Linked DNA regions of Homo sapiens. The protein of the gene in region 1 interacts with the protein of each later gene in a pairwise test. Each region holds a gene or a part of one and is shown on either strand. Other genes may lie near its edges.

Region 1 (5,359 bases):
GCTGGTGTGCAGAGAATTGGTTGGTGTGGGAAAAAAAACCCCACCCATTTGGTGTCAGAAGTGTGAGTGAAAACATTGCAGACGTGGTTTTTTAGAAATCCCAACTCCAGGGCCGGGCGCGGTGGCTCACACCTGTAATCCCAGCACTTTGGGGGGCTGAGGAGGGCAGATCATGAGGTCAGGAGATCGAGACCATCCTGGCTAACATGGTGAAACCCCGTCTCTACTAAAAATACAAAAAATTAGCTGGGCGTGGTGGTGGGCGCCTGTAGTCCCAGCTGCTCGGGACGCTGAAGCAGGAGAATGGCGTGAACCCGGGAGGCAGAGCTTGCAGTGAGCCAAGATCGTGCCACTGCACTCCAGCCTGGGCGACAGAGCAAGACTCCATCTCAAAACAACAACAAAAACAACAAAAAAAGAAATCCCAACTCCATTGGCTGTGAGATCTTGGACTAGTCTCAGTTTACCTTTGGTGCTTAAAGGATATGGTGAAAAGCAAATGAGATACAAAATCCAAAAGCATTTTATAACTATAAAATATAGTAGAATATCCCTAATCTCTACTTCTTCCTCCACCATTTTTACCATTCTTCTGTGTCTGTGATTGGAAGTGCTCCTATCAGAAATTACATGAAATAATTATATTATACGGTGGACAGAGGGGACATACATTACTCAGTGGAAAATACTGAGCAAAACAATGGGGTGGGGTGGGGATGATAAATCACAAAAGTCCTGCATAAATAGGATGTCTAATCAATTTGTCTGCCTGGGATTCAAGTAAAGACAGTGGTGTGTGGGAGCTTATATGGACTAGCTTGTGAGAGCTGGCTGTTAAAGTTTTAGGAATTTTGCAAGCCAGTTATTAAACACAGCCATTCTAAACAATTAAATTACATGAACTTCCAATTAAACAAGTTATATTTTTTAAAAGGAAAAAATATTCAAAACTCATCATATTCTAATCCTTTTGCTACTGTCCATGCTCTTGAAATTATATATATTAAACCTATTTTATCTTTATGGTGAGAATATATATAATGGTGCATGTTTTCTGAACTCTTCAATGAGTGACATGACGTTAATAACTTGAACTTGGCCATCGTAGGAGTATTTACATCACAGAAACAGGCAAACGCTATAAATCAGGTTCCTCTGCCCTCATAAAACCAGTTGTTAAGCATTTACCAGCACATCACTAAGTGAAGGGCAGAGGAATTCAAGCTAGATTTGAAGATATAAAATTAAAAGGTGGTTTTAGGGGATTCACTCTTGGTTTTTAAAGAATAATGGGAGAGGAAAGGTTTTAATCTTCAAAATCCAATTTGGGCTTTTCCCTCTTTTGTCAAATTCTACAACATAACCTGAGAGCACCATTTCTGTTGTAAGAATATTCCCCCTAGTCAATGTGAAGGAAAAGGTTTTCTCAGCCTTGAGATCAAAGGAGATAGGTTTGAATAACCCTTATTTCTAACAGTGTTTATAGACAAAATGGTAAAAACTGTCTTAAGGCCGGGCGCGGCACTTCATGCCTGTAATCCCAGCACTTTGGGAGGCTGAGGTGGGCAGATCACCCGAGGGCAGGAGTTCAAGACCAGCCTGGCCAACATGGTGAAACCCCGTCTCTACTAAAAATACAAGAATTAGCTGGGCATGGTGGCACACACCTGTAATCCCAGCTACTTGGGAAGCTGAGGCGAGAGAATCACTTGAACCTGGGAGGCAGAGGTTGCAGTGAGTCGAGATTGTGCCATTGCACTCCAGCCTTCCAGCTTGGGCAACAGAGTAAGGCTCTGTCTCAAAAAAAAAAAAAAAAAAAAAAAAAAGAACTATTTTAAATGAGGATGATATCTAAAAAATAGGATATCTGTTCATTCTAAAAATACATTTCCTTAAGTTCATCAGAAAAAGAGTATCTCATAATATAAAAACTATATGCAAAACTTAAATCCATAGGAACATTTTTAGGTAATGATCTATAATACACATTACATTATCCACATTAAAAAATATTAAGAGGAGAATCTACTGAAGAACAAAGAAAGCATACTTGGCCAAATTTTCAACTGATTCCCTGTCATTAGCAAATATGTTATAAGCTCCGTTGCTCTTCCATAAGAATCCCACTGAACCTTGACTGAATGCAACCACGGCAGGAACTTGGTTGTTTTCCTTCTTTGAGAATGTCGTATGGAACTGCAGACCATCCTCAGGATAAAGGAAAATGGCATAGGAGCTGGAATCAGAGGAGGCTAGAACAGCCTGGAACGTGTTTCTCTGTGAAGATGAGTTAAAATTCAGTTACTCGGAAAAATATCGATAGATTTTAAAATGTGTTATTCGCCAGACTATCTATAAAGCGTACAGTGCTATAGAGCGATGGCAATATTCTCACCTTATTCTAAAAGAAGGACTTTTGTAGCAAGAACCTAGGATTCTGGGATAGTTCCACTGAAATATCCCTAAGGCTATGTCAACATGACATTTTCTGATTAATTCATAAATATCTTCTGCATAACTGTGGCCCTAAGGTTAACCAAAAATTATACAGATGGTACCTCCAGATGGTGGCCTAAAATCTCACGCAGTTTAGGAAATTCTTACCCAAAGACTTTGTTTCCATGGCTGTTAACATATTCAACCGCATTCATCGTTTAACAAACATTTATTGAACCCAAGCACCGTACAGTAGAAAAAACAAAACAAAACATGAGATTTGGGAGAAAACAGACCTGGATCCAAATCTTTGCTCTACTCATTATTATGTGACTTGGGCGTGATACTTGAGTTCCCTAAGCCTCGATGTTTGCATCTGTAAAATGGAGATAAAACCACCTCCTTCACAGAAATGAGGAAGACTACATGAGGTCACGTATGAAAGAGCAGGCACATGCCGGGCGCGGTGGCTCATGCCTGTAATCCCAGCACTTTGGGAAGGCTGACATGTGAAGAAAACATTGCAAAACCTGAGGTTGGATTCTGTAATCGAAACATTTGCAAAGCGCTGCAGGAGCCGTAAGAGGAAGCGTCCCATGCCAGGAGCGGTGGGAGTGCATCCCATGCCAGGAGGCTGTGGTTGGTCAAGGCCTCACGGGAGGGCCCAGTCTGAATGAACAAGCAGGAGGAAGCTGCCACCTGTAGGGGGGTCAGGGAGAGGACGTCCCAAACAGAGAGGACAGCCTGTGCAAGATACTGCGGATAAAAAAAAAAGAGCAAGGGCAAGGTCAGGGAATTACATGTAATTTGGTATAGCGGCTGCAAAGGGTATGCGGAGGTGGAACAGATTAGGCCCAAGAGGCAAGCAAGGGATCCATACCAATGGGTTAGGCATTTATCACCCAAGTGAAAGGGAGGCAGCTGAGACACTTAACATTTAAGCTGTTTTCAAGTTTGGCACTCAGACAGATAACAGTTGGCAAGCAAAATGTGTCATGCAGGCCCCTAACAGACTTTCCCAAAGTGTGCTCTGTGGGATGTAATGCATCTTTTTTGGAGCGGGGGAAGGGAAGAGGTATGGTCACAGGTTTGGAGACTGCTCAGTTAAACAATATTCGGCAAGGCTGGAATGGTGGCTCACGCCCTTAGTCCCAGCTACCTGGGAGGCTGAGGCAGGAGAATCACTTGAACCCAGGAGGTGGAGATTGCAATGAGCCAAGATGGCACCACTGCACTCCAGCCTGGGTGACAGAGCAAGACTCTGTCTCAAAACAAAAACAAAAACAAAAACAAAAAAAGTAGTATTAGGCAAGTTGCAAGTTTCCTGACTGCAGGACTTTTCAGAGTGAACAGGGTGAATCACCAAGAGGGAGATATAGTTTTAGCATTTCCCAAACTAGAAGGCCTTTTCCTCAAGGTGTATCTTGTAGGACTGGTGTTTTGTGGTACACACTTTAGGAACCACCAGCCTGAAATACCTCCCATTTATATGAAGTGCTTTGGGACCCTTCAAGTTTCTTTCTTCCTCATTTTCCTATAAAGGTGAAGTTATGGTAGAGAGAAATTATTTTTCCAAGGGAAAATCGAGGCCTGTCCTAAAAAGTCACTTCAGGTCTAACAACGAGTTCCTGACCTACTCAAAGACCCTGCTTCCTTCAAGGGCAAGTCCGTGCTCTACAGCCTGGTCCTTCCAGCCGTCCCTGATGACTGCGCCCACGGAGAGGCCAACCCTGGGTTATGACAATACTTGGGTTTTGAACCACTCACATGGTCCAAATGATTCTTGTCTCCCCAACTAGAGTCTGGGCTTTACCTTTCTATCTTTGCATCCCTCAGGAGTACTTTGTTATTTTAACCTATCGTTTCATATTAATAATTTCTCTAGTCAGAAACTATCCTTCCAGCCGGGCTCGGTGGCACACACCTGTAATCCCAGCACTTTGGGAGGCTGAGGTGGGTGGATCATTTGAGGTCAGCAGTTGGAGACCAGCCTGGCCAATGTGGTGAAACCCCATCTCTACTAAAAATACAAAAATTAGCCAGTGTGGTGGCCCATGCCTGTAATCCCAGCTACTCGGGAGGCTGAGGCACAATAATTGCTTGAACCTGGGAGGTGGAGGCTGCAGAGAGCTGAGATTGTGCCACTGTACTCCAGCCTGGGCAACAGAGCAAGACTCCATCTCAAAAAAAAAAAAAAAAAAAAAAAAAAGGCCGGGCATGGTGGCTCACGCCTGTAATCCCAGCACTTTGGGAGGCTGAGAAGGGTGGATCACGAGATCAAGAGATAGAGACCATCCTGGCTAACATGGTGAAACCCTGTCTCTACTAAAAATACAAAAAAAACCAGCCGGGCGTGGTGGTGGTCGCCTGTAGTCCCAGCTACTCGGGAGGCTGAGACAGGAGAATGGTGTGAACCGGGGAGGCGAAGCTTGCAGTGAGCCAAGATCGTGCCACTGCACTCCAGCCTGGGCGACAGAGCGAGACTCCATCTCAAAAAAAAAGAAAAATAAATAAATAAATAAATAAATTATCCTTCCACTATCTGCCACCTGAGGTAAGAGCAGCCAGGGGATGCCATTTATCAACCCTATTTTTGCCACATAGCAGTCTTACCAGGAATTGCTTTGCTTTATGTCTACTTGTCATTAAAACGTAGAGTTATACAACCTTGCAGATAAGCTTTTGGAGGTTTGGGACCTGCAATAACCAGCCTACTAGATTTTGCTTTGGATTTCCTGTCTTTATCAATGGTGTATAACTTATGTCAAAGCAGCACAAGGCGTGAGACCAAAGTGTATGAAGCCAATGTGTCTGATTACCTGCACTTGGACCTGGAGGGGAGCTTACCTTGCCTTTCTGGTCTGGGTCCCTGCTGGGCCCTTGGTAGGGGGCCACGGATTCCCAAGTGACAACCACCGCGCTA
Region 2 (5,359 bases), on another chromosome or scaffold:
AAAGGATACTTAAAAGGGGGGGCAAGACTCACTGGTAAGGGAAAGGGGAAAGAAGGAAAGGAGAGCTGAAATGTGGCATGGTTAAGGTGACCAACAAAAATAGGAAGTTAACAGACAAACCCAGGAAACTGAGGGAGAATGCGATTAGGAACGAGTTAAACAAGGGAAAAAACAAAAAAGAGAGCTGGATATTTCTCTAAACCCTACCTTTAAGAGGTTCCATGGCCAGGCGCAGTGGCTCATGCCTGTAATCCTAGCATTTTGGGAGGCCGAGAAGGGTGGATCACCTGAGGTCAGGAGCAAGACCAGCCTGGCCAACATAGCGAAACCCAGTCTCTACTAAAAATACAAAAATTAGCTGGGCGTGGTGGTACGAGAAGGGTGGATCACCTGAGGTCAGGAGCAAGACCAGCCTGGCCAACACAGCGAAACCCAGTCTCTACTAAAAATACAAAAATTAGCTGGGCATGGTGGTACGCACTTGTAATCCCAGCTACTCGGGAGGCTGAGGCAGGAGACTCACTTGAACCCAGGAGGCGGAGGCTGCAGTAAGCCGAGATTGCACCACCGCACTCCAGCCTGGGCAACTGAGCCAGAATCCATCTCAAGATAAAAAAAATAAATAAATAAATAAATAAATAAATAAATAAAAGAAGCTCCAATTCTGGTCGGGTGCAGCAGCTCATGCCTGTAACTTTGGGAGGCTGAGGGAGGTGGATCACCTGAAGTCAGGAGTTTGAGACCAGCCTGGCCAACATGGAGAAACGCCGTTTCTACAAAAATTAGCTGGACATGGTGGTGAGTGCCTGTAATCCCACCTACTTGGGTGGCCGAGGCAGGAGAATCACTTGAATCCGGGAGGCAGAGGTTGCAGTGAGCTGAGTTCGCGCCACTGCACTCCAACCTGGGTGACAGAGCAAGACTTTGTCTCCAAAAAAAAAAAAAAAGAGAGAGAGAGAGAGTCCAATTCCCAATTCAACAAATTAGGAAAGTAGCAAAGCTGTTTTGCCTGATGTCCCAATATTCCAGTTTGGAACCAAGAAACTAAGGACTGCAAACAGATCTCTGGATGTTAAGCAGTAGTGATTAAAACAAAATCAACTCTAAACTATCCAAACTCTGGTTTGATTACTGAGATCCTACTAATGGAGGAAATCAATGAGAATGAAGAAACCTGGGAGAGATCTGACAAGTAACCCACTGCCCTCAACAAAACAGGCTGAAAACAGAAAGGAAACCGCTCTTAGAATATGTATCTTAAAATCTGATCAGTCAGGAGATGACTTAGGGCCAACTAAAGGACAAAAATAGGCAGGGCACAGTGGCTCACGCCTGTAATCCCAGCACTTTGGGAGGCCAAGGCAGGCAAATCACGAGGTCAGGAGTTCAAGGCCAGCCTGGCCAATATAGTGAAACCCTGTCTTACTAAAAATACAAAAATTAGCCAGGTGTGGTGGTACGCACCTGTAATCCTAGCTACTCAGGAGGCTGAGGCAGGAGAATCGCTTGAACCTGGGAGGTGGAGATTGCAGTGAGCCGAGACGGCGCCATTGCACTCCAGCCTGGGTGACAGAGCAAGACTCTGTCTCAAAAATAAAAAAAGAAAAAAATATGTATGTGGGAGATCTTTATTTTTGTTAAGAATTAGGCCAGGCACAGTGGCTCACACCTGTAATCCCAGCACTTTGGGAGGCCAAGGCGGGTGGATCACGAGATCAGGAGTTCAAGACCAGCCTGGCCAAGATGGTGAAACCCCGTCTCTACTAAAAATACAAAAAAAAAAAATTAGTCGGGTGCGGCAGCAGGCGCCTGTAATCCCAGCTACTCAGGAGGCTGAGGCAGGAGAATCGCTTGAACTCAGAGGGCGGAGGTTGCAGTGAGCCGAGATCGTGCCACTGCACTCCAGCCTGGGTGACAGAGTGAGACTCTGTCTCAAAAAAAAAAAAAAAAAAAAAAAAGAATTATTGAGCAATGAATTTGAAATACTAATAAGACCTCAAAATTATAAGAAAAAAATTAATATTTTTAAAAGATTTAAGAGTTGAATATTCAGTGAAGGTCTCTACATGATATGTAAATGTGGAATTAAAAAAAAAAAAAAAGGCCTGGGCACAGTGGCTCATGCCTATAATCCCAGCACTTTAGGAGGACAGGAGAATCAACCGAAACAGGGGAACAGAGGTTGCAGTGAGCTGAGATCGCTCCACTGCACTCCAGCCTGGGCAACAAAGTGCAACTCCATCTCAAAAAAAAAAAGGAAAACAGAAAACGAAACATCACATTTTGAACTAATATTCAGAATCTGGGCAAATTCCACTGCTTATTTATAAAACAAACTGATCACTTATTTACATAGTTCCTCAGCCTATAGCTTAGTTATAGCAGTAAGAAAGGGAACTGACTTCTGGCAACAGAAATACTAAATGATAGATGCTAAGTGACAGCTGACAGCCTAAGGAGAGAGGAAAATTACAAGATGCAAACACAAAAACTGCTTCAAAAAGCAAGACAATCTGAGTAAAGGCTTTAGCATAGACCGGGGCAAATAATTTAATATATCTCAATTGTCCCCTACCCCAATTCAACAAAGTATGGTAATTAATGTTTAAGAATCTTGAGTTGGCCAGGCGCAACGGCTCACATCTGTGATATTACCTAGCACTTTGGGAGGCCAAAGTGGGCAGACTGCTTCAGCTCAGGAGTTTGAGACTGGCCTGGGCAACAAGGCAAAACCCCATCTCTAATAATAATACAAAAATTAGCCAGGCAAGGTGATGTGTGCCTGTAGTCCCAGCTACTTGGGAGGCTAAGGCAGGAGGATCACTTGAGCCCAGGAAACAGAGGTTGCAGTGAGCTGAGATTGCTCCATGGCACTCCAGCCTGGGTGACAGAGCCAGACCCTGTCTCGTTAAAAAAATAAAAACTCTTGAGTCAACGTGACATAGCTAAATTATGTTCTGTATACCACTTAGATTCAAAACTTTTTCAGACATTTTACAATTCATGAAAACAGTTTTTTAAAAAAACACAATGCTTTTAAAAAGTAGCTTAACGGGTAGAACATTTTGCACCCCAGCTCTACATGACCAAAGAGGTGTCAATGAACGAGGATAAGTTCATTCTAACAAATCAGTAAAATTTAAGATCAGTTTGAGGGCAGGAACAGTGGCTCACACCTGTAATCCCAGCACTCTGGGAGGCCGAGGTGGGTGGATCATTTGAGGTCCGGAGTTCGAAACCAGCCTGACCAAATGGTGAAACCCCATCTCTAATAAGAAAAAAAAAATTAGCTGGGCATGGTGGTGCATCCCTGTAATCCCAGCTACTCGGGAGGCTGAGGCAGGAGAATCACTTGAACCCAGGAGGTGGAGGTTGCAGTGAGCTGAGATTGCGCCACTGCGCTCCAGCCTGGGCAAGACAGTGAAACTCCGTCTCAAAAAAAAAAAAAAAAAAAAAAAGGAAAATCAGCTTGAATTAAATGAGAATTTCTTTTCTAGACATCATTTGTTAAAAAACAAAGAAAGCTCCTCTTTAAATAAGTGTTATATCTGAAAGAATTCTAGATGTACTGCCCAAGAAATCAATTGTTTCCAGATTTTTTAAATTAAAACTACTAAAATTGGCCCTACCCAGTGGCTCACACCTATAGCCCCGGAATTTTAGGAGGCCAAGGCACAAGGACTGCTTGAGTCCAGCAGTTCGAAACCAGCCTGGACAACATAGAGAGACCCCCATCTCTACAAAAAAAATTGTTTTTAATTGGCCAGCCGTGGTGACGCATGCCTGTAGTCTCAGCTACTCAGGGGACTGAGGTGGGAGAATCAGTTGAAGCTGGCAGGTTTGAGGTTGCTGTGAGCTATGATCCTGCCACTGCACTGCAGCCTAGGCAACAGTGTGGGGCTTGTCTCGAAAAAAGAAAAAGAAAAAAATATAAAATTACTAAAATTGATTTATATATTTCAAAGTTTTTCCTATAATGAATACTGGAATCTCAAATCTTCAGAATATCAAGCAAATTCTAAATTTGCTCAAAGACCTTGACTTGAAATCTGACTCAATTTTGATCAAGTTCATTTCAAAACCCTACAGTTTGATTTATAAGAGTAAGTTTTATCTTTACTCATGAGCCAAACCTAGCATCTATTTATTTCTGTGTCTCTAAACTTCAGGTGCCACCTTAAATAACTGCTAGCACATTCCTTTATTTTTAAACAGTCATCCCTCTTAGCTCCTATTCTTTATTTTATTTCCTAGTCTTGACCAACCCAGTAAGAGTCAGACTAGAGCTTCTAAGGAATCTTAAAGATCACCTAGCATAGTCCCCTAGCCAATGTCTGAATTCCCTATTTAAAATCCCTGTTAAGTGGCTACGCAGCCTCTGCTTAAACAGCAGCTTGAGGTCAAGAACCAGCCTTACCTTTGTATTTTTAATACCTAGCACTATATGCCTAGCATGTAGTAGGGACTCATCTATCAAATATCTATTATTTGTTGAATGAATTCTGAATGACAGTGCAGCTCATTAATTCCCAAGGTAGCCTTTTACAAGGTTATTCTGCTACCACAAAACTCTTGGTCTCTTTCACGTTTGATATCCCTCTACTCCATGAAGCACCAAGGAAGCCCAACAGTTTCTAAGGCTGCATTTTTCAGAGATATAAATTAAACAATACAAATGATGGGGACACGCACAACACTAACCATGATAAAATGTTGCAAGCTAATTTTACCTAATATGCTGTGGTAAGCCATAAACACATTTATAACAAATTATCCTAACTGTATGTTAAAAACAATTAAGAAAAGCACAATGTTTATGATACAACAAAACATTCAGAGGCATGCCAGATTTTCTCATCTATTCTGCATTTGTGTCAACATACAAATTAGGTTTTCAAAAAAAGAACAATATAATTAAATGGTTCAGCAGTAATGCTACTAATCAGGAATAAAAATTAGATACCAAATTATGAGTATCTACTGCCTGGTATCTTACCTTTCAACATAGGAATCATTTATTTTTATGTGTATTTAAATTTTAAAATACAATACATTATATAACTTGCCAAAGAAGTGGATCATTTAGTAGCTTAAGTTAGAGCCTTAACATTTCAAAATGCTCTTATCACCCAATTTCCCCATCATTATTTACCCCAAAATGAACAGATAGCATCCTCATTTCAAACACATAAGCAAAATTTCAGACACAAAAATTTCATTCCAAAGGTTCTTTCCTCTTAGGTCATAAAACTCCAAATGTCTATGAATGTACAATTTAAACAATTCCAAAATATACAGTAAAAAAATATAAAATAAGTAAAAACTAAGAAACATTTTATGAAAGTTTCTCTAAATTTCT

What was found. The genes of interacting proteins can lie anywhere in the genome.
Region 2: the proteins of NID1 (region 1) and SKIL interact in a two-hybrid assay, tested with the Homo sapiens proteins (one large-scale study listed by BioGRID and IntAct).

The regions. Positions count from the first base shown.
Region 1 is NC_000001.11:236,043,407-236,048,765, forward strand, and holds part of NID1 (nidogen-1 precursor), read right to left. Parts: coding exon 5,284-5,359; intron 2,278-5,283; coding exon 2,051-2,277; intron 1-2,050. UniProt on the Homo sapiens protein: Sulfated glycoprotein widely distributed in basement membranes and tightly associated with laminin. Also binds to collagen IV and perlecan. It probably has a role in cell-extracellular matrix interactions.
Region 2 is NC_000003.12:170,374,142-170,379,500, reverse strand, and holds part of SKIL (ski-like protein), read right to left. Parts: intron 1-5,359. UniProt on the Homo sapiens protein: May have regulatory role in cell division or differentiation in response to extracellular signals.